Homo sapiens: one gene and its partner. The protein of the gene in region 1 purifies or fractionates together with the protein of each later gene. This does not show direct contact. Each region holds a gene or a part of one and is shown on either strand. Other genes may lie near its edges. The genes, in order: SEPTIN6 and RAP1GDS1.

Evidence for each region.
Region 2: the proteins of SEPTIN6 (region 1) and RAP1GDS1 purify together in Homo sapiens (affinity purification with mass spectrometry; 3 studies listed by BioGRID and IntAct, with this or other methods). This does not show direct contact.

What each region holds. Positions count from the first base shown.
Region 1 is NC_000023.11:119,679,224-119,691,320, forward strand, and holds part of SEPTIN6 (septin-6), read right to left. Parts: intron 1-12,097. UniProt on the Homo sapiens protein: Filament-forming cytoskeletal GTPase. Required for normal organization of the actin cytoskeleton. Involved in cytokinesis. May play a role in HCV RNA replication.
Region 2 is NC_000004.12:98,408,058-98,420,154, forward strand, and holds part of RAP1GDS1 (rap1 GTPase-GDP dissociation stimulator 1), read left to right. Parts: intron 1-8,687; coding exon 8,688-8,831; intron 8,832-9,309; coding exon 9,310-9,441; intron 9,442-10,599; coding exon 10,600-10,734; intron 10,735-11,961; coding exon 11,962-12,087; intron 12,088-12,097. UniProt on the Homo sapiens protein: Acts as a GEF (guanine nucleotide exchange factor) for the Rho family of small GTP-binding proteins (G proteins) that stimulates the dissociation of GDP to enable subsequent binding of GTP.

The DNA of each region.
Region 1 (12,097 bases):
GAGCCACCATGCCTGGCCCAAAAGAAATAATTTTTTAAGCCCTAAGAAGCAGAAGTATGGACTTCATTTCCTAAGCAATGGGATTTGGGGGATTTTGAGTGATTTGAGCAGGGAGGGCCATGATACAGGGAGTGTTTTTAAAAGATCACTCCAGCTGCAGGGTGTTTGCTTGATTGGATGGACAGAGAGACTAGGAGCAGGAAGACATAGGAGGAGATGACTCCAATAATGTTGAGCCAGCAGAGTGACATCCAGGCACTGTGACAATAAATGCTGGTTGGTGTGAACTGACCTGACTTGGGACTCAAAGAGAAGGAACAAATTTGAGAGATGTCTTAAGAAGGGATGAGCCTCTGCCGGGAGCAGTGGCTCACGCCTGTAATCCCAGCACTTTGGGAGGCTGAGGCAGGCGGATCACGAGGTCAGGAGTTCAAAACCAGCCTGGCCAACATGGTGAAACCCCATCTCTACTAAAAATACAAAAATTAGCCGGGCGTGGTGGCGGGAGCCTGTAATCCCAGCCACTCAGGAGGCTGAGAGGCAGGAGAATCACTTGAACCCAGGAGGCGGAGTTTGCAGTGAGCCGAGATTGCGCCACTGCACTCCAGCCAGCCTGGGGGACAGAGAGAGACTCCGTCTCAAAAATAAATACATTAATTAATTAAAAAAGAAGGGATGAGCCTCAAGGAGTGATTGGGCAGAGAGAACAATCGCAAGGGTCTAAGCCCGGGAGCTTGGATTGACAGCACCATGGAGACACATAGGAAAGCCAGGAAAAGATGCCTGTTTAATGGGGACGATGAGGAGACTGATTTTAAATTAGCTGTTACTAAAAAAATTACATTTATCAGATTTTTTATTTTGTGGAAGTAATCAATGTTCACTGTAGAAATTTTAGAACATACAGATAATAATAAAGAAGAAAATCAAAATCAACCATAATATCACTCTCCAGAGATAAACACTCTTAATTTTATTTATTTATTTATTTATTTATTTATTTATTTATTTATTTATTAGAGATGGAGTTTCTCTCTTGTTGTCCAGGCTGGAGTGCAGTGGCACAATCTCGGCCCATGGGTTCAAGCGATTCTCCTGCCTCAGCCTCCGGAGTAGCTGGGACTACAGGTGTGCACCACCACGCCCAGGTAATTTTTGTATTTTTAGTAGAGACGGGGTTTCACCTTGTTGGCCAGGCTGGTCTTGAACTCCTGACCTCAAATGATCCGGCCACCTCGGCCTCCCAAAGTGCTGGGATTACAGGAGTGAGCCACCATGCCCAGCCACTGGTGACTTTTAGAATCCTTATTTCTTTTGTATCTGTTACCCAGTGTCCAATACACCTAAATTAACTGAGGAGTTTGGGAAAGAAGGGACATAGAACCTGGTCAATGTGTTTTTCTTGCTAACTGGGATTTAAGCAGCAAACTTTTTGTCTCAATCCCTGTAGCTAAGAAAGCTTCAAAAATGTATTTGTGGCCAGGCACGATGGCTCACGCCTGTAATCCCAGCACTTTGGGAGGCCGAGGCGGGTGGATCATGAGGTCAGGAGTTTAAGACCAGCCTTGCCAACATGGTGAAACCCCGTCTCTACTAAAAATACAAAAATTGGCTGGGCGCGGTGGCAGATGCCTGTAGTCCCAGCCACTCGGGAGGCTGAGTTAGGAGAATCACCTGAACCCGGGAGGCAGAGGTTGCATTGAGCCGAGATCACGCCACTGCACTCCAGGCTGGGCGACAGAGTAAGACTCTGTCTCAAAAAAAAAAAAAAAATGTATTTGTATAGTTCCTACTTTAGGAAATCCTGTCTGGCAAACACTATGCACCCTTGCTTTGATGAATCTTATAAGATGTCAAGGTCATCATTATGAGTATCAGTCCGCATTGTTCAGAGTTAAATACGCAAAGGTAGGAAGGACAGAAGGACACAACATTGAACTGAATGTACACTGACCCCAGCACAGCCCCTGGAAGTTTCTCCCCTCCTCTCTCACTAAATCTCTGATATCTTATCTCTTTCCTCTTTCTCCTTAAGGTGGCCTGATTAATTGAGGGCCTGATTACTTTGATTGCAGTTAATTGAATGTTCCTTGACTACAATGTGCACGAGAGGAGATGGAACCGGCAACTTGGCCCAGCATGTCTGACAGTAAATCTCAAGTTTTCATCTTTAGTAGCAGGTGGTGCCATATTACCATACTGAAGGCCTGAACTGAGATGCTGGAATGGCCAAAGTCACCATTTTAAATTGCACTTCTCTCATAACCCTGCAACCTCCTCTCAGAATCTGTACAAAGATCTATTACAAGGAAATTTATTACAGCACAGTTTATAATGCTGAAAAAAAAAACCCAACCTAAATGTCCAACAATAGGAAAATATTTAACCAAATTATGGTACACGCATATTCTGGAATATTCTACATCCATTAAGAAGCATGTGGGTAGTTCTGTATGTACTGATGTGAGTATCTCCAAGACATATTATAAAACAGAAAACAGAAGTTATAGGGCGACTGTAATAAAATAGAAGAAAATGGAAGTTATTACATGACTGTAATCCCAGCATTTTGGGAGGTCGAGGCAGGTGGCTCGCTTGAGCCCAGGAGTTTGAGACCAACCTGGGCAACACAGCAGAATCCCGTCTCTACAAAAAATACAAAAATTAGCCAAGTGTGTTAGCACACACCTGTAGTCCCAGCTACCCAGGAGGCTGATGTGGGAGGATTGCTTGAGCCCGGTAGGTCGAGGATGTAGTGGGCCAAGATTGTGCCACTGCACTCCAGCCTGGGCAACAGTGAGACCCTGTCTCAAAAAAAAGAAAGAAAAAAAAAAGAAAATAGAAGTTGTAAACTATAAGCACAATATGAGCCCATATATGCCCCAGAAGCCCTGTAGATGTGTATTTGCACGTAAATGTATGTGGATGCATAGAAAGAAGACTGAAAATACAGCCACCAAACCCACAATCGTAGCTACCTCAGGGGAGGGGGATGGAAATAGGGGCTCAGTCAAGGGAGTAGTCGGTATGCTTCCCTATTGTTTGACTCTTTTATAGCACGAATGTATTCGCATGTTACCCATGTAATTTTAAAACATTTTTAATATAAGAAAGAAGAGTTCTCACTCAGCTTTGCAGCAGGGGTAATTAGGATGCAGAGAGTCTGAGAGGAGCTAAAAGGAAGGCAAAATGAAAGAGTGCTCCTGAGAACTGGGAGAGCGCCCCACTCCCCTCCCCAATTACATTTCCTGTTTTCTCCTCATCTGCAGTCACCTGTGGTTTTTAAATACGTTATACCACATTTCATATCACAGGCAGAAACACTGCTCTCTTTCTCTTCTGCCTCCTCTCCTGAGGACACACCAATTTCGTTTTTTAATTGAATATTCGTAAGGTTCATATTATCAAGAACAAGTTATGGTGGTTCCAGCTGCGCATCTTTCTCTCATTGCTGTTACTGAAAATAAAGAGTCCCTTAAGCACCCGAGTAGGCCACCTCTGTCCCCCACTCCCCTTGGCCCCTCTTCCAACCTCTGTGATAGTAAGCAAGCCGTATTTGAGGCCTCTGGGAACTGAGGGTGCATCTGTGTCAATGGAGAATTTCCCGCCTCTGTTTCAAACCAGGGTGGCTAAATTAGTAGCTGTCATTCTAAAGAATAAAAGCAAAAAGTTTGAAACTCATTGCTGATGACTAGGCTGTCCCTAAACTTTCTCCTCTGGCCATTCCCATCCAAATACTAGGAAAGCGGCCAGGTACGGTGGCTCATGCCTGTAATCCCAGCACTTTGGGAGGCCAAGGCGGGCAGATTACTTGGGGCCAGGAATTCGAAACCAGCCTGGCCAACACTGGGAAAACCCGTCTCTACTGAAAATACAAAAATTAGCCAGGCTTGGTGGCTCATGCCTGTAGTCCCAGCCAGTTGGGAGGCTGAGGCAGGAGAATCGCTTGAACGCAGGAGGCGGAGGTTGCAATGAGCTGAGATCGCACAACTGCACTCCAGTCTGGGCAACAGAGGGAGACTCTGTCTCAAAACAAACAAACAAACAACAACAACAAAAATGCTAGGAAAGAAAAGAAACACTGAAACCGGACTCTCTTCAGTCACCTACTGGTGGGCCCAAGCTCTCACACCTCCCTTTTCTCCATTTCCACTCTCAGCCCTGAACACTGATGTCTGAAAGACCGTGCAAATCTCCAAGACTATGAATCATCGGTTCAGTGATACATGATGGAATATTAAGCAGCTGAGAAAAATGTTTTCTAAGAATATTTAATGACAAAAGGAAATGCTCACCAAAGGCAAACAACAACAGGAAAACCAACCTGTATACACAGGGTCATCCCAATGATGGGGGAAAATACACATTTTTTAAAAGATTAGAAGAACACATGCCAAAATAATGTCAGTGATTTCTTTTGGGTAGAGAGGTTGTAGGTGATGTTGCTTTTCTGGGTTTTCCAAATGTTCTACAATAGGCATATTTTACTTTTATAAACAGGGAAAATGTTACTTTTTTAAAAAAGATTCTATGATGATACTTTCCTGGGTAGGAAAGTGGCCTCAGGTATTTTAGAAAAATATTGAACTACAACCAAAAAGGTGCCTGACAATTTGGGTCATCAGAGCATTTAGCTTTCAGGCAGTTTTATTGTATATAAAACATTTATTTTACCAGAAATACAATAAAACCCTATTAGTCTCCTTATTATAACTTCTTTTTTTTTTTTTTTTTGAGACAGTGTCTCACTCTGTCAACCAGGCTGGAGTGCAGTGGCGCGATCTCAGCTCACTGCAACCTCTCCCTCCTGGTTTCAAGCGATTCTCCTGCCTCAGCTTCCTGAGTAGCTGGGATTACAGGTGTGTACCACCACACCCAGCTAATTTTTGTATTTTTAGTTTAGTAGAGATGGGGTTTCACCATGTTGGCCAGGCTGGTCTAGAACTCCTGACTTCAGGTGATCCACTCGCCTCGGCCTCCCAAAGTTCTGGGAATATAGGCGTGAGCCACTGTGCCCAGCCCCCTTATTATAACTTATTATTACATATTATATATATAACTTATTGTCATACAGTATAATTTCTTATTATAATGATTCATGTGAACCAGAAGTCAAATCATATATCCTGAAACATGTAGCAAAAAGTCTTGATGAAACAATCAGGTAGCTGATAGCTTCCTCTGCTGCCTCCAATGCTGCCAAGGATGCCGCTGTATTATGTCATAAGAACCACAAAAGCACTGATAAGTTCCCAGAGGTTTTTTTTTTTTTTTTTTTTTTCTGAGATGGAGTCTCACTCTGTCTCTCTCAGGCTGGAGTGCGGTGGCACGATCTCAGCTCATTGCAACCTCCGTCTCCAGGGTTCAAGTGATTCTCCTACCTCAGCCTCCCGAGTAGCTGGGATTACAGGCGCCCACCACCACATCCAGCTAATGTTTGTATTTTTAGAAGAGACGGGGTTTTGCCATATTGGCCAGGCTGGTCTCGAACTCCTAACCTCAGGTGATCCGCCCGCCTCAGTCTCCTAAAGTGCTGGGATTACAGGTGTGAGCCCCCGCACACAGCCAAGTTCCCACAGGTTTTAAAAACAATTCTCAAATGCATCCAACACATCAAATATCAGAATGTCCCTCATGCTAATTAAGCCAGGCTAAGAGGAAACTGAGTAGTAGCAATGCCCTATCCTGGGAAAGAGAAATGTGGGGGCTGTTCTAAGGAGAAATAAGGCCTGCAAAAGCTGGCAGCACCCCCAAGGGGCCTCAGAAATGCCCTTCAGTTGGGGAGCAGTTGTGCTGAAGAAGCACAAGACAGACTATCCTTACCAGACAGAGGAGGAGGCCCATTTTTGGCAAATCCAATAGATGAAACTGATTTTAATACACAAGATAAATTCCAGAGTGGCTTTTCATTCTATAAAAGGATTCACAGCAGGATTCCATTAAGTAGCCGGCTCTTCTACTGCATTGAAAGCAGGATTCAATAGACAAACATTCAGCTGTCATGTACCTTTATAGGAAGACAATAGCTATCTACACCTACATGGACAGGCAATATCTGAAGGGTTGTTTCTGTTCCACTTACCGAGAGCCTGCTGAGCTAAAAGCATAGATCGACCTTCCCTACGACTCTCTCCCCACCCAGCTCAAGGGGTCAAAGCAGGGAAGGGGTGGGGTTCAATTCTGCCACCTCATTCGGAAGCAGACGCAGGCAAGGACCTAAAAGAAATGAGGCTGGAGAAAAAGGAAACATAAGCACCATACAATGTTAGAGCTGGAAACGCCCTTAAAGATCACCTAATCCAGCCCTTTCGTTTCACAAAAGGGGAAACAGAGACTCACAGAGAGGAAGTGACTTGGCTCACGTCACAGACTGATTTAGTGACAGAGAATAGTGCTAGGATCCAGGCCCCTGTCGAGCCAACGGCCACTCTCAAATGGAAAAGCTGACTCAAGTGGCACATGTGTTTCTTTAGACTGGTAAAATTCCGGGACATTGAGCTTCTGGCTTGATGCTGGTCAGGGGCAGAAGGGTCAAGGAACCGAATCTGGAAACCCGTGAGCTCCCCAAGGTGGTTCTGGCCCACAGAAGGCAACTGAAGCAGTCAATGCGGTGGAAGGCACTCATTGTGTGTTCCTGCTCTCTACTCACTTCCCCACTTTTTCCTCCTGTTTCCCTCTCTTTTGACTGCGGCCTAAGTCTCAGCCTGGCCAGCTGCCCAGTTCTGCTGAAGAACCCCAAGACTAACACAAGCCTAAGTCTAGGTCAAATATCCCCACCTCAGGCCAGGGGTGACCCTTGCTCAGGGTGAGTGAAACTTTCCCACAAAAGCCAGCCAGATTCCCTGGAAGCCAGACAATTGAAAGAGAGTTTTCTAGGTGTTCTGGCTATTGTTACCTCCAATCTGCTAAAAAAGAAAAGGTTTACCCACAGGCCTCTGGGTGAATGCCCAACTGCCCTCTGGGGAGCCTGAATTTGCCTCTGCCTCCATCTGGTCTTGTTTAATGGGGATCTGAAAAAAACCCAGTTCCTGCCTCAGCGCCAGTGTTCAGAGCTGGGGGCCTCCAATGTGAAAGGAAACCGAACACGACCTCACACCTCATCAGGGCCAGGAAAACAGAGTTCTGCCCCGTTACCCCAGGGCCTTCATTCCGGGTCAGAGAGGGCCATGGCAGGGGAAACCTGAGCCCTGAGGCCTCTCGCTGAGAAGGCCTGCAGATCTTTTCCCTGGTCACCTTTAAGTGAGTGGAAGGGCCGGCTGAGAGCGCGCTGCATAATTCAGCAGATGGCTGCCTCTAATGAGAAGACACTGAAGAAGAGGATAACATTATTTCTCACCCTCCTGAGCATGTGGCCTCCTTCCTCTGTGCAGGCGGCAGAGAAACCCACGGTTTCAAATCCCAGCAGCAGAAGCCTCCTCCTGCCAAACTGAGGAGGAAGGGTCTGTGTTTCTAATTTATTCTGCGCCCCCCACTCCAGTTGTTACTTAAAATAATCCATCATTACATGGCTGGTGGCTCCAAGATTTTTATTTAAAGCAATATGGAGAAGAAAAAATAAAAAAGAAAACCCACACAACCCGTGACTGTGCTATATTGGATTTAAGCTGAGAATCTTTTTAATATCAGAGAGTCTCCGAATCACCCTAGTATACTCTTCCCTGGGCCCTATGGGAGTGCTGAGGGAGTGTAGTGAAAAGAGGGGGAAGAGAGGTCATGGCAGGATTTTGATGTCTTAGAAACATCATGAAAAGACAAGTGTTTTTAAACAAGGAATCTGTGTCATCTGGTGGGTGTTTAATCGTATCACCCACTGACCAGCAATAGCACTTCGGACTAAGTAACTTGGTCTCCCTACACCCATTAAATAAAGGGAACAGTAATACTTGTCCAGGAAGCCATTGGGGAAAATGAAATCATACAGATGGAAGCATTTCGAGATCGTTGAAAGAAACATGTTATATATATCCATGGCTTTCCTTCTTTCCTTCTTTTTCCTTCTTTCCTTCTTTCTTTCTTTCATCTGTCTTTTTTTTTTTTTCTTTTTTGAGACGGAGTCTCACTCTGTCGCCCAGGATGGAGTGCAGTGGCACAATCTCGGCTCACTGCAAGCTCCGCCTCCCGGGTTCACGCCATTCTCCTGTTTCAGCCTCCAGAGTAGCTGGGACTACAGGCACCCGCCACCACGCCCGGCTAATTTTTTAATTTTTAGTAGAGATGGGGTTTCACCGTGTTAGCCAGAATGGTCTGGATCTCCTAACCTCATGATCTGCCCGCCTCGGCCTCCCAAAGTGCTGGGATTACAGACGTGAGCCACCGCACCTGGCCTCATCTGTCTTGAATGTAGTTTTAATGTACATGCAACTAAAAGCCCTTCTCAATTGTTCATGCTAATATTAAACCATGGCTCTGATCATCCAAAAACCCAGGCAAGTCCAGAAATCAGCCCTACTTAGTTTGGGAATACCTTTTTCCAGAGGACTTATCTTCCTAATTGGCTTTGCTCAGGCTAATGCAATAGGTTTGCTCCCTTATAGCACACAAAGGCAGTGGCCATGCTTGGTAACAAAGCCAGCAATTAATAGAAAATTTACAGCAGAGACTCCACAAAGTAAATGCTATGCACATGACTGCAGATCAAAATCTCATTAGATGATACAGACAAATCACTCTGCTATAATGTAGTTTTGTATTAAGAACACCGCTAACACTCACATTTCCAGGATTTAGGATGTAAAAAGGAAACAGGGCTTATTCCTGCCTTTCATCTGGAAGCTGTGAGAGGGCAGAGTTCCTGCGTGCCTTGGCCACCACTATATCCTCAGCACCTGGCACGGGGCCTGGCCGATCAGTGCCCAGTGAATATGTGCTGAAGGAATGAATGAAAATAAAAGTGGGTGAATTGGCAAATGAAATGTTCCCAACCCAGTAGCAGATGTGAGATCTCACCCACCTTCACACCTACCCATTTCCTATTTGAAGCCCTCAGGAAGCCCTTCCTGTCACCCTCTGCCTCCATTCATTGCTGAGTTAGGTTCCCTTAGTAATGAAATCTCATGGCAGGCAGTCACTCTCCTGTGTAGCACTTATCACAAAGATAATTAGATAGTGATTTGTGTCTGCCTCCACCAGTTCCTTGAAAGAAGGGACCATGTGCATTTGGGGGACATTGTCATTCTGCCCGCTTTTTATTTTGAAAAATCCCAGGCCGGGCGCTGTGGCTCACACCTGTAATCCCAGGACTTTGAGAGGCCAAGGTGGGCAGATCACGAGGTCAGGAGTTCGAGACCAGCCTGGCCAACATGGTGAAACCCTGTTTCTACTAAAAATACAAAAATTAGCTGGGCACGGTGGTGCACACCTGTAATCCCAGCTACTCGGGAGGCTGAGGCAGGATAATTTCTTGAACCCAGGAGGCGGAGGTTGCAGTGAGCTGAGATCGCGCCACTGCATTCCAGCCTGGGCGACAGAACAAGACTCCATCTCGGGGAAAAAAAAAAAAAAAAGGAAAAGAAGAAAAGAAACATCCCAAACACACAGAGAAGTTAGAAAATAATGTAATGACTGTCCAAAAACCCCTCAAATTTAGAATCAACATTTTTAAATATTTAGGGCCATGTAAACTTTCTTCCGTGTTGTATCACCAATAGAGCTAGGTAATAGGGTTTTGTTTTCTATGTTTGAGGTACGATACTACCTTTAGTGGGTGGTGGTAGGAACGCCTGAAGCAGAGACCTCAAAGGGAATCAAAGGGTAACTGCCACGTGATGATAGCAAAACCAGAGTGCAGCAGCAATCTTTTCCCCACCTGAAGACAGTTGCTCTGAGACAGTTGACCCAGACCAACCCCAGCTAACTTTGTAGGGCAAAGTTAGCCCCTGAAAGTTCACTTGGGAGAATGACCACTACCTAGATTGCCACTAGAGAAAGCTTCATTGTTCACATTGTGGGACTAGTTCAAGCCAGAATCATCCAGATGCTCTTGGTATGGGCCGGCATTTACGGTCTGGATCCCAGAATGCAACATTGAAAGGAACAGCTCATTAAAAGAGCCAGCACATGCAGCTTTTGGGGCTTGCCCTGTGCCTTGGTTACCTTGGACAAGTCATGGAACCTCTCGAAATATATATTAATAGCAGCCCAAGCCACCTCATAGTCAGGGGGTGAGGTGGGGCATCACAAGGATCTTCTATAGTTCTTTAATTATTTCACAGTGTCCACAATTTGTCATTCCAACTAGACTATAAGCTTAAAAGCCACGAACTTTTTTTTGTTTTGTTTTTTGAGACGGATTCCCACTCTGTCGCCCAGGCTGGAGTGTAGTGGCACGATCTCGGCTCACTGCAAGTGCCGCCTCCCAGGTTCACACCCTCAGCCTCCACAGTAGCTGGGACTACAGGTGCCCGCCACCACGCCTGGCTAATTTTTTGTATTTTTAGTAGAGATGAGATTTAACCATGTTAGCCAGGCTGGTCTCGATCTCCTGACTTTGTGATCCACCCACCTCGGCCTCTTTTTTTTCTTTTTTGAGATGGAGTCTCGCTCTGTTGCCCAGGCTGGAGTGCAGTGGTGCAATCTTGGCTCACTGCAACCTCTGCCTCCAGGGTTCAAGCGATTCTTCTGCCTCAGCCTCCTGAGTAGCTGTGATTACAGGCACGCACCACCACGCCTGGCTAATTTTTGTATTTTTAGTAGATACGGGGTTTCACCATGTTGGCCAGGCTGGTCTCGAACTCCTGACCTCATGATCTGCCCACCTCAGCCTCCCAAAGTGCTGGGATTACAGGCATGAGCCACCAAGCCCAGTCCGATCACGAACGTTTTTTAAAGCCTGCTACCTTTTTTTGTCCAGTTGACAAGGGCTAACCATAGTGCTGGCCACATATCAGTCAATCAAGTAAATATGGACACAGTGGAGAAATGGTGTTGTCACACCAAACCGTTTGTGGTGTTCATTCAAATGGGACGGACTTGTATTATGTGCACCAGAATTGAACTTCCAAGTTGGCTGCGTGCAATGTAAGCCCTACCCAACAACTTGAAGGCTTGTTTTAGTCACTAAGGATGTTTACCCACAGTGACTCTCAACTGATTCTAGAAAGAACACACCCCCCACATACATACACATACACACACACACACACACACACACACACACACACACACACTAGGGCACTTACTCGCATGGTACCACGTCTCAGAGCTCATTAAAAAGAATTCCTGGCCGGGAGCAGTGGCTCATGCCTGTAATCCCAACACTTTGGGAGGCTGAGGCGGGTGGATCACAAGGTCAGGAGTTCGAGACCAGCCTGGCCAACATGGTGAAAACCCCCCTCTACTAAAAATATCAAAACTAGCCAGGTGTGGTGGCGGGTGCCTGTAATCCCAGCTACTCGGGAGGCTGAGGCAGGAGAATCGCTTGAACCTGGGAGGCTGAGGTTGCAGTGAGCCGAGATCATGCCACTTGCACTCCAGCCTGGGCAACAGAGCAAGACTCCGTCTCAAAAAAAAAAAAAAAAAAAAAAAAGAATTCCTAAGCTAGCCACACTTAGGTTTATTCTCTAGTCTTCTGTTCCCAAACCCTGAATACATGTTCCTTGGAGGAAACAAGCAGCAACCAGATGTCCAAGGTCTCCTGAGTTAACTCCGTCTTCCCTGGTGAATTACAACTTATTGCAGACACAAAGGAGAACAGAGAGACAAATGACACATAAACAGGAGCTTCACTGGCTGGGGGAGGGGGGCATGGAGAGTGACGTCAGTTTTCCCAGAAACCCATTTATCACGATAACAAGGTCTCGAGTGCTTAGGCTGCTCTTTCAGCTTCAGAATCTGGCGTACAATTATGTTCTTCATCATACAGTATGGCAAGGCCAGCCAGAGCAAACTGGAGCCATGCAAAGCAAACCAAGTGGCCCTAAAGCACCCCCTCACCCCCATCTGCAGAACAAAGGGCATCTCTAGGTTGCCTGAGTTGTGCCTGAGGTGAAACACACACAACCTTCTGGAATGTTCCCCATTGCAACATCTGCCCTGCAATCCTAATCCAGGCAAGAGAAACTGGTGAGAGTATGGAGGACAGGTCGATGCAAATTCATTA
Region 2 (12,097 bases), on another chromosome or scaffold:
GGATATTATGAACAATTTGATGCCCATATATTTTATATATATATATATTTTTTTTTTTCCCTCCCCCGCAAGATGGAGTCTCACTCTGTCACCCAGGCTGGAGTGCAGTGGCACCATCTCGGCTCACTGCAGCCTCCACCTGGGATGCAGCCTCCATCTCCGAGGTTCAAGCAATTCTCCTGCCTCGGCTTCTCAAGTAGGTGGGATTACAGGCGCCTCCTACCACGCCTGGCTAATTTTTTTATTTTTATTTTTAGTAGACACGGGGTTTCACCATGTTGCCCAGGCTGATCTCAAACTCCTGACCTCAGGTGATCCACCTGCCTTGGCCTCCCAAAATACTGGGATTACAGGCATGAGCCACCGTGCCTGGCCTGATGCCAATATATTTTAAAGTATGACTGATACAAGAATAGAAAAGCTGAGTAATCTTACCTTAAGAATTCTTCCAGAGAATAGGAAAAGGAAATATACTTACCAATTTATTTTAATGAGGCTAATGAAACCTTTATACCAAATCCCAACAAAGACAATACATGAATGAAAATTAAAGGCTAGTCTCACCATGAACATAGATCCAAAATTCCTCCTAAAATTTTAGCAAATTTACTCTAGTAATATATTAAAAAAATTAATCACACCAAATTGCATTTATTCTGAAAGTGTAACACAATTTAATATTTGAAATGCAACTAGTATAATTCATCACCTTAAAATATTTAAGGGGAGAAACCATGATCTTCTCAGATTTTAAAAAAAGCTTTTCATAAAATTAAGTGTTCATTCATTATTTTTAAAAACTTAGGAAAACAGGACTAGGAAGGTCTTCAATCTGAAAAAGATATCTATGAGAAGGCTGAAGAAAACATCACAATCAATGGTGAAATAAAAAAGCATTTGCTTTGAGATTGGGACAAGAAGGATCATCCCCGCTTCCATTTAACATTGTATTGTAAGAAGTATCCAGTGCATTAAAGAGAATAAAAGAAAAAAAATTAAGATAAAGCAATAAAACTCTCATTCATTTATGATGTGATTATGCATATTTAATTCAAAAGAATCTATAGATCAGTTTTATAGATCTTTTTTTAAATCAGAATTTTGTTAGGTTACTGCCAAAAAACAAACAAGAATTTCTATATACCAAAAAAGAAAAAACAGAAAATAAAATGTGAAAAATACGTTGGATAGCCCTTTTAGCTGGAACTGCCACCTTCCAGTAATTTAACAAAATAATGAACACAAAGGGAAAGAGAAGCATCTGATATGTATTCTGTAGGCCTTTTAGAAAATACGGAGTTGTTCCTTTAGCCACATACATTCAAATCTACAGGAAAGGTGATATTGTAGACATCAGAGGAATGCATCCTGTTCAAAAAGGGAATGCCCCACAAATTTTACCATGGAAAACCAAGAGTCTATGGTGTTACCCGGCATGGTACTAGTGTTGTTGTAAACAAACAAGGGCAAGATTGTTGCCAAAATAATTAATGTGTATAATGAGCATATTAAGCACTCAAGAGCCAAGATACCTCCCCGAAACACATGAAGGAAAGATAGGAAAAGAAAAAGAAGGGAGCCAAAGAGAAATGTACCTGAGTTCAACTGAAGCAACAGTCTGTTCCACCTAGAGAAGCGCACTTTGTGAGAACAAACGGAAGGGGCCTGAGCTGCTGGAACCTCTTCCCTATGAATTCATGGCATAATAGGTGTTTTCAAGATAAAAGGCTTCTAGACTATTAAAAAGTATATAAAAAATTAATTCCAGATAGATTGACCTAAATGTGAAAGTTAAAACTTCAGAGGGTTTATCTTAAAATGTAAGCTAGGAGAATATCATCATGGCCTTGAAATACTTTTCTTAGATCACAAAAAGCTCTAATCATAAAGGAAAAAATTGAGACATTGGTTACTTTAAAAGTAAAACTTCTGGCTAGCCTGGTGGCTCATGACTGCAATCCTAATGGCTTTGGGAGGGCAAGACGAGGATCACTTGAGACCAGGAGTTCGAGACCAGCCTGAGCAACATAGTGAGGCCTCATCTCTACCAAAAACAAATAAATAAAAGTTAAAACTCTTTTTTTAAAGACACCGTTAAGAGTGAAAAGCAAGACTGGATGAGAGAATATAATTATAACATATAACTGACAGAGGGCTTGTGTATACAGTGTATAAAAACTCTTAAAAATCATTAAGAAAAATGTGAAAAACATTTTAATAAGCACTTGACAAAAGATTTATATTAAGTCCAACAGACTTAATATAGATATGAAAATGTTCACTCTTAGGTAACACAAAATAAAACCACAATAAAATACCACTATACACCCACTGGAAAGTCTCATAAACCAACTGTTGATGAGGGTGTGGAACAGTGGGAGTGTAAATTGGTACAATTGGGAAGTAGTATCTATTGAAGTTGAAGCAATAGATCCAACAATTCTGCTCTTAGAAATATACCCAGAAGCTTGTGCACATGTATACCAGGAACTGTTACAGGAATGTTCAAAGCAGCATTATTTATAATGAAAAATTGGAAACAACCAAAATCCATTAACAGTAGAATGAATAAATCATAGGATATTAATATAATGGAAAAATATAGAGTTATGAAAAGGAATGAAGACAGCTGTAACCATTACTGTGGATGAATCTCATAATGTTGAAAGGAAAAAGCCAACACTGAAAAATACATATTGTATGATTCAATTTATATAAAGTTAAAAACAAAAAGTAAAACTAAACTGTAGTTTTTAGGAATGATTATTTACTTGGTAAAATGATGAAAGTATAGAAGTGATTACCATAATAACCAGGATGATTTGAGACAAATGAAGGAAGGGGTTTGTTATCAGAAACAGAAATGCAGAGATAGGCTTCCTGAGTTGTTGGCAATGAATTTCTTGATCTAGGTGATAGATACATGGTTATTTGCTTTCTAATAATATATTAAACTTAACTTGGATATTTTATGCACTTCTCTGCATTTGTGGTTTTCTTTCACTCTTTAAAAAAAGTTTTAAAATACCTATATATGATGCATACATGATACATACAAGTGTACATTCATACATATGTGTGTAAACAGTGGTGATAAAGATACTTGTCCTTGGACAGAATGGTTTTGGTAAATGTGCTGGGCTGTCTGCTTTGGCAGAATGTCTTGCTAATCCTAATTAAGGTAGTTTAAGCCTCCTATATATTTGTTTTCAGGTATTTGATTTCAGTCAAATTGTGAGAAGAGATTATCTGTAAACTTTAACATTGAGACATTTAGGCTGGGAGTGATGGCTTACGCCTGTAATTCCAGCACTTTCAGAGGCCAAGGCAGAAGGATTGCTTGAGCCAGGAGTTCAAGACCAACCTGGGCAACACAGCAAGACCCTGTCTCAAAAAAAAAAATTAATTAAAATTTTAAAACTACAATATTGACACATTTAAAATTTCTTAAATGTCTTAGGTCCTATTTCTTAGGGAGAAATTTGTTTTTTATCTCATTGGTGTTTTGGCAAAGTAAAAATTTTACTGTGACCTTCAGTCAATTTTAGGCCATAAAATAACCTATAACTTTCCTTGCAGTATTTCAAAATAACAATGTGTTGATATTTATTACTGTTTTCCCCTCTGCCTTCACATCTGTTTTATAATTGCACAATGGATAGGATGATACCATTGAAGGCTTGTTTTTGGACTAATTCTTTGCATGTATCATCCTTCATTTTCCCAGTACACGAAGGAGAGTGATTTCAGCATTAGAAGTTGGGATTTGTATAGTTCAAGGATTTTAGTATTTTTAAGGCTTTTTCATCATAGTTTTTAATTCTAGTCACCACACATCTCTAGCCCTAGCATTCTGTAACCAAGGAAACGCCCTACTTTTAGCATGGCACAGTACAAGTGTACCTTTTAAAGAAATATTCCAGGTTGAATACTCTGTGTATTCTGAGATAATATTCAAAAGAAGATCAGTGATCCTAGTGATTCAAAAAAGCCAAATTTTAACACATTAAAATTGCCTGAAAGTCTTAAGTATTTATTTTTAAAAGTCTTTATTTTTCCTAAATGATAAGCTGAAGCTGCCATTGCCATATATGGATGCATATACAGCTTAGGGAAACCAATGACTAAAATAAAATCCAACTGAAAAAATAAAGTTTAAATTTAAAAATTTCTGGCCAGGTACAGTGGCTCATGCCTGTAATCCTAGCACTTTGGGAGGCCAAGGCAGGAAGATTGCTTGAGGCCATGAGTTCAAGACCAGCCTAGGCAACATAGTGAGACCCTGTCTCTACAAAAAAAGTTTAAAAATTAGCCAGGCATGGTGGCATGCACTTTTAGTCCCAGCTACTCAGGAGGCTGAGATAGGAGGATTGCTTGAGCCCAGGAGTTCAAGGATGCAGTGAGCTATGATCATACCACTGCGCTCCAGCCTGGGCAACGGAGCGAGACACTGTCTCTTAAACAAAAAATCTGTGTTGCAAATGTATTTTTCAGGTGAGTTGACTAGCATTTATCTTAAGGAGTATCAACTACACTCAAAGCATTTAGATAGGCCAGTTTAGGTTAAGATACAAAGATGAGTAAGGTGTATCTATTGGGGGAACCAGCCCCCAATATTTCAATGTATGTTCTATTTTCCCTAAATGTCGGCCCATCTGAGAAATAGAGAAAGAGTACAAAAAGAGGAATTCTACAGCTGGGCCTCCAGGGGTGACATCACATATCGGTAGGTCCGTGATGTCCCCTGAGCCACAAAACCAGGAAGTTTTTATTAGGGATTTCAAAAGGGGAGGGAGTGTACAGGGAGTAGGTCACAAAGATCACGTGCTTTACAGGGCAATAAAGATCACAAGGCAAGGGCAAAGCAAAGATCACAAGGCAAAGGGCAAAATTAGAATTACTGATGAGGGTCTATGTTTGGCTGTGCACGTATTATCTTGATAAACACCTTAAACAACAGAAAACAGCGTTCGAGAGCAGAGAACCGGTCTGACCTCAAACTTACCAGGGCGGGATCTTTTCCGCACCCTAATAAGCCTGAGGGTACTGCAGGAGACCAGGGCGTATTTCAGTCCTTATCTCAACCGCATAAGACAGATACTCCCAGAGCGGCCATTTATAGACCTCCCCCCAGGAATGCAATTCCTTCCCCAGGGTATTACTATTTTTTTTTTTATTATACTTTAAGTTTTAGGGTACATGTACACATTGTGCAGGTTAGTTACATATGTATACATGTGCCATGCTGGTGCGCTGCACCCACTAACTCGTCATCTAGCATTAGGTATATCTCCCAATGCTATCCCTCCCCGCTCCCCCCACCCCACCACAGTCCCCAGAGTGTGATATTCCCCTTCCAGTGTCCATGTGATCTCATCGTTCAATTCCCACCTATGAGTGAGAATATGCAGTGTTTGGTTTTTGTTCTTGCGATAGTTTACTGAGAATGATGATTTCCAATTTCATCCATGTCACTACAAAGGACATGAACTCATCATTTTTTATGGCTGCATAGTATTCCATGGTGTATATGTGCCACATTTTCTTAATCCAGTCTATCATTGTTGGACATTTGGGTTGGTTCCAAGTCTTTGCTATTGTGAATAATGCCGCAATAAACATACATGTGCATGTGTCTTTATAGCAGCATGATTTATAGTCATTTGGGTATATACCCAGTAATGGGATGGCTGGGTCAAATGGAATTTCTAGTTCTAGATCCCTGAGGAATCGCCACACTGACTTCCACAATGGTGGAACTAGTTTACAGTCCCACCAACAGTGTAAAAGTGTTCCTATTTCTCCACATCCTCTCCAGCACCTGTTGTTTCCTGACTTTTTAATGATTGCCATTCTAACTGGTGTGAGATGGTATCTCATGTGGTTTTGATTTGCATTTCTCTGATGGCCAGTGATGATGAGCATTTTTTCATGTGTTTTTTGGCTGCATAAATGTCTTCTTTTGAGAAGTGTGTGTTCATGTCCTTCGCCCACTTTTTGATGGGGTTGTTTTTTTCTTGTAAATTTGTTTGAGTTCATTGTAGATTCTGGATATTAGCCCTTTGTCAGATGAGTAGGTTGCGAAAATTTTCTCCCATTTTGTAGGTTGCCTGTTCACTCTGATGGTAGTTTCTTTTGCTGTGCAGAAGCTCTTTAGTTTAATTAGATCCCATTTGTCAATTTTGTCTTTTGTTGCCATTGCTTTTGGTGTTTTGGACATGAAGTCCTTGCCCATGCCTATGTCCTGAATGGTAATGCCTAGGTTTTCTTCTAGGGTTTTTATGGTTTTAGGTCTAACATTTAAATCTTTAATCCATCTTGAATTGATTTTTGTCTAAGGTGTAAGGAAGGGATCCAGTTTCAGCTTTCTACATATGGCTAGCCAGTTTTCCCAGCACCATTTATTAAGTAGGGAATCCTTTCCCCATTGCTTGTTTTTCTCAGGTTTGTCAAAGATCAGATAGTTGTAGATATGCGGCATTATTTCTGAGGGCTCTGTTCTGTTCCAATGATCTATATCTCTGTTTTGGTACCAGTACCATGCTGTTTTGGTTACTGTAGCCTTGTAGTATAGTTTGAAGTCAGGTAGTGTGATGCCTCCAGCTTTGTTCTTTTGGCTTAGGATTGACTTGGCGATGCGGGCTCTTTCTTGGTTCCATATGAACTTTAAAGTAGTTTTTTCCAATTCTGTGAAGAAAGTCATTGGTAGCTTTATGGGGATGGCATTGAATCTGTAAATTACCTTGGGTAGTATGGCCATTTTCACGATATTGATTCTTCCTACCCATGAGCATGGAATGTTCTTCCATTTGTTTGTATCCTCTTTTATTTCCTTGAGCAGTGGTTTGTAGTTCTCCTTGAAGAGGTCCTTCACATCCCTTGTAAGTTGGATTCCTAGGTATTTTATTCTCTTTGAAGCAATTGTGAATAGGAATTCACTCATGATTTGGCTCTCTGTTTGTCTGTTGTTGGTGTATAAGAATGCTTGTGATTTTTGTACATTGATTTTGTATTCCCCAGGGTATTATTAATATTCCTTGCTGAGAAAAGAATTCAGTGATATCTCTCCTACTTGCACATCCGTTTATAGGCTCTCTGCAAGAAGAAGAATATGGCTCTATTCTGCCTGACCCTGCAGGCAGTCAGACCTTTGGTTGTCTTCTCTTGTTCTGTAAAATCACTGTTATTCTGTTTGTTTTCAAGGTGCACTGATTTCATATTGTTCAAACACCCATGTTTTACAATCAGACTTCATATTTTTCAAGCACACATGTTCTACAATCAGTTTGTACAATAGTGATCCTGAGGTGATGTACATTCTCAGCTTACAAAGATAACAGGATTAAGAGATTAAAGTAAAGACAGGCATAAGAAATTATGAGTATTATTTGGGAACTGATAAATGTCCATGAAATCTTCACAATTTATGTTTTTCTGCCACGGTGCCAGCCAGTCCCACCATTTGGGGTCCCTGACTTCCCACAACATATATCTGCTCAGGAGATAGATGGAGACAGATATGGAGGCAAATATAAGCTCTTCAGTGAAATAAGTGTTATAATGAAAGAATACTTAAAGATATTAGAAGTATAATAAAAAGTGTTGATGTGGGGGTGGAGTTTCCTATGAAGATCAGTTTTAAAAATGTAATTGGGATGTAAATTCTGTCTCTAAAATACCTTATGTTATGTTTAGCCATCAGAAAGGTTCAAGGTTATTTTTTTCTTTTAACTTTTATTATGAACATTTTGAAATGTATTCAGAAATAGCATTTAGTAAACCACCATGTACCCATCACTCAAGAAAGCTTTAAATCAATGAAAACCTGAAGCCCTTTTTAAAAACACGACTTTATTTATTTATTTATTTAATTTTTATAGACAGGGTCTCACTCTGTTGCCCAGACTGGAGTGCAGTGGCACAGTCATAGCTTACTGTAACCTTGAACTCCTGGCCTCAAGCAATCTTCCTGCCTTGGCCTCCCAAAGCACTGGGATTACAAGTGTAAGCCACCATGCCCAGCCCTATTTTATAGTATTTTATAGCTTGCCCTTTAAACATGAGCATGATATCTAGAGTAATAGTGGAGTGATACTAGTTGCTTTCAGAGCTGAGTATCAATTTGTTTAGATGCTGCAAGACATCCTGAAAAATTTGGCAATTTCAAATGGAAATATGAAATAAAGCTTTTTTGTATATTTAAATGAACTGTCAAGATAGTTTACTTTGAAGATTTGAGTTTCAAAAATGTATTATCTAAATCATGCATTTTCTTAGTTTTTTTTTTTTTTTTTTTTTTTTTTTTTTGAGACAGAGTCTCGCTCTATTGCCCAGGCTGGAGTGCAGTGTTGCAATCTTGGCTCACTGCAAGTTCCGCCTCCCAGGTTCACGCCATTCTCCTGCCTCAGCCTCCTGAGTAGCTGTGACTACAGGCGCCTGCCACTGCACCTGGCTAATTTTTTTTTGTATTTTTTAGTAGAGACGGGGTTTCATGGTGTTAGCCAGGATGGTCTCGATCTCCTGACCTTGTGATCCGCCCATCTCGGCCTCCCAAAGTGCTGGGATTACAGGCGTGAGCCACCGCACCTGGCCCTCTTAGTTTCTTATAATTCTTTATAATGGACTGCTTATACCAGAGCTCCTATTTTATCTCAAAGTTTGATTATTTTGTTCACGTTGTTCTTTAGATGCTATTAAACTACAGCTGGTTGAAGCAGGCCTAGTAGAGTGTCTACTAGAGATTGTTCAGCAAAAAGTGGATAGTGACAAAGAAGATGATATTACTGAGCTCAAAACTGGTTCAGATCTCATGGTTTTATTACTTCTTGGAGGTGAGTTGTAATTTATGCCAGCCAAAGAATGTGGTTGTCAGATGTTTTTAAAATTTATTGTCTCTTCTGTAAATACTACCCTAGACATTTTCTCATATTCCTATCTCACCTGCTATTGAGGTGATGATTTTGACATCTTAAACATGCCATTGATACAACCAGACATAATGAACCTGAAAAAGAAGTGTCTTCACTATCTTCCAGTATTTGAAGAGCTGTCACATAGAAGAGATAGCTTTGGCACCAAGGGACTAAAGAAAAGCTAGATGGCTCCCTGGGACTTGGACTAGAAAAAATGCTAGACTCTATTGTCTAGTATCTATTAAATGTTTATTATAAAAAGAATCATTACTTTTCCCATTATGAATGTAACAGTTTGTGAGGTGTGAGTTTCCAGTTGGATATTCACCTAAGAATGTGAATTTGTTACTCCTAGTTATTTTTCTCTTGCTTAACTATTCGTTTCATTTACCTCCAGATGAATCCATGCAGAAGTTATTTGAAGGAGGAAAAGGTAGTGTATTTCAAAGGGTACTCTCTTGGATCCCATCAAATAACCACCAGCTACAGCTTGCTGGAGCATTGGCAATTGCAAATTTTGCCAGAAATGGTAAGCATATTAGTTCCTCCTTTGTTAGTCAAATACTCTATATTTGTTTATTTTTGCTTTGCTACCACATATACTAAAACTGGAACAGTTTAGAAGTTGTGTAATATGTGTATATGCTGCTAACTTAATTTTTCAGAAATCTGAAATACTTAGTGACATTCCTAACAAATTACATATTTTATGCAATTCAACTAAATTCTAATAGTTTAAATATCATGAAGTGCTTCTTTTGAATACTTGGCACTTCAGAGCTTAGTAAGTTTGAATCCCATTCTAGTATACATCTGCTTTCTTTTGCCTAGTGATTTTATTTTGGATCTAATTATCTGAGTATTCATTCTAGGATTATTGTGCCTCAACTTATATACTTTTATGCCCATAAAACTTAAGTATGAATAATCCCCTGGCATCGTGTAGAATGTTTAATTTAGTTTAATAATGTTTCAGGGGGCGCCAGACTTCTATGTTTATGAAATCTGGCACTACCAAAAAACTCAAATACAGTCTAGAAACTCATTCTTACGTTCCTCATGAAATATACCGTGTCTAGGAAATACAGTTTATTTTTCTTTTTAGTTTAATCATCTTCCAGTACAAACTGTTGGTATATATTATATCATAATGGCTTACTTGCTCCATTTTTACTCCTTCTTTTTGGGAGTGACTTCCTAATTATGGAGGTAAGAGTGGCATAATATGGATAATTATTGAAACTAGATATGGGGTAAATAGTGGTTCATTATAATATTCTCTCCGCTTTGTAAGTGTTTGAAAAATAATTTAGGTATCAGCCATGATAGCAAAAGGTAGAGTACTATCACTGTAACATTGGGAGAACACAAGCATACATCACAATAAATGAAAAATATTGGACATTCTAACCATGTGTTTCTACTTCTGATATATTATCTGGCTCTAAACTAAAGATTTTTCTGGTAATTTTCTGATTTTAAAACTTTTATCTAGTTTAAGAATTTTTTTTAACACTTCTCACTCAGTAAACAGAAAAACCTATAAATCTGATGGGAGAAAGATTTGGAATTCATTTTATTGTATAGCTCCATTTTCCCTAATGTAGATAATAGCCAGACATCAGTATTATAAAGTATTTATAGATATTTTAAAGAGGAAGAAAAAGATGTGTGTTTTTTTTTTCAGATGCAAATTGTATTCATATGGTAGACAATGGGATTGTAGAAAAACTTATGGATTTACTGGACAGACATGTAGAAGATGGAAATGTAACAGTACAGCATGCAGCACTAAGTGCCCTCAGAAACCTGGCCATTCCAGGTAAGACTTAAGAATAGAAGGCAGCTGTGTACAAAATAAAATCCATCATTTGGGGAAGCTATTAACTGTATGTGATTTGTGAACCTGCTCTGATGAAGAAAATTTAAAAAAAAATAGTCTTCACATTGTTCACATTTTTTCATGCTAATAAATGGAGATCATATGTTAAATAAGTTTTGTGAGACTGTACAAGAATAATCTTTGCCTTCATTCAGATATCCTGTTACCTTTTGCGAACTGTTAGATTTTCATCATGTTTTATAGTTAAGCTTTTTTAAGTTTGAGATGGGGTCTCACTCTGTCAGCCAGGCTAGAGTGCAGTGACGCAGTCCTGGCTCACCACAGCCTCTACCTTCTGAGCTCAAGTTATCCTCCCACCTCAGCCTCCTGAGGAACAGGGACTACAGGCATGTGCCACCATGCCCAGCTGATTTTTTTTTTTTGTAGAAACAGGATCTCACTATGTTGCCTAGGCTGGTCTTGAACTCCTGGGCTCAAGCAGTCCACCCACCTTTGCCTCCTAAAGTGCTGGGATTACAGGTGAGAGCTACTGCACCAGGCCTTAGGCATCTTTAGTTGAGGTAGAATAATGACATCAATTAACAGAGTCCACTCAAGAATGACTTTCAGTTGTTGTTTTTCTATAAGCAGATGTACAATTTTTTTAAAATAGCCTTAATGTGCCTTTGGAAGTCATGAAATCACTGTATTATGGAAAATACAACAAAAGATAGTTAAAACTATTCTTTTATCCTACTTTCTAAAAATAAATTTCTGATTAGATGAAATAGTACAATTACATGATGATCCAATCCATTTGAATTCATTTGGTTTACATAGGATAGTAACATTTATTAATGTCTATAACATTTATATTAACACAGTTGGATCAAAAACGGAATTGTGCTTTTTGTTGTAAGAGGGTAACATTTTCAGATTTCCTTTACAAACTATGTAAGTAAGTGTTTTGGATTGGATCTAAAAAGCCATGATACTGTCATAAAAATTATTATATTGTCTGTTATCCGCTTATACACAAATAGGATACGGACACACACATAAACAACTGAATTCCATTCTTAAAATTGACAAAAAAGTGACAAGATTGTTTCTAAATGGAAAAATAAAACATGGATCTTAAAGATACTTAATAAACCTGTATTGAATTGAATGTTTATCAACAGGAATGCTAATACCATTTTAACCATAGTCTCTCTTTTTCTCCAGTTATAAATAAAGCAAAGATGTTATCAGCTGGGGTCACAGAGGCAGTTTTGAAATTTCTTAAATCTGAAATGCCTCCTGTTCAGTTCAAACTTCTGGGAACATTAAGAATGTTAATAGATGCACAAGGTAAAAGAAA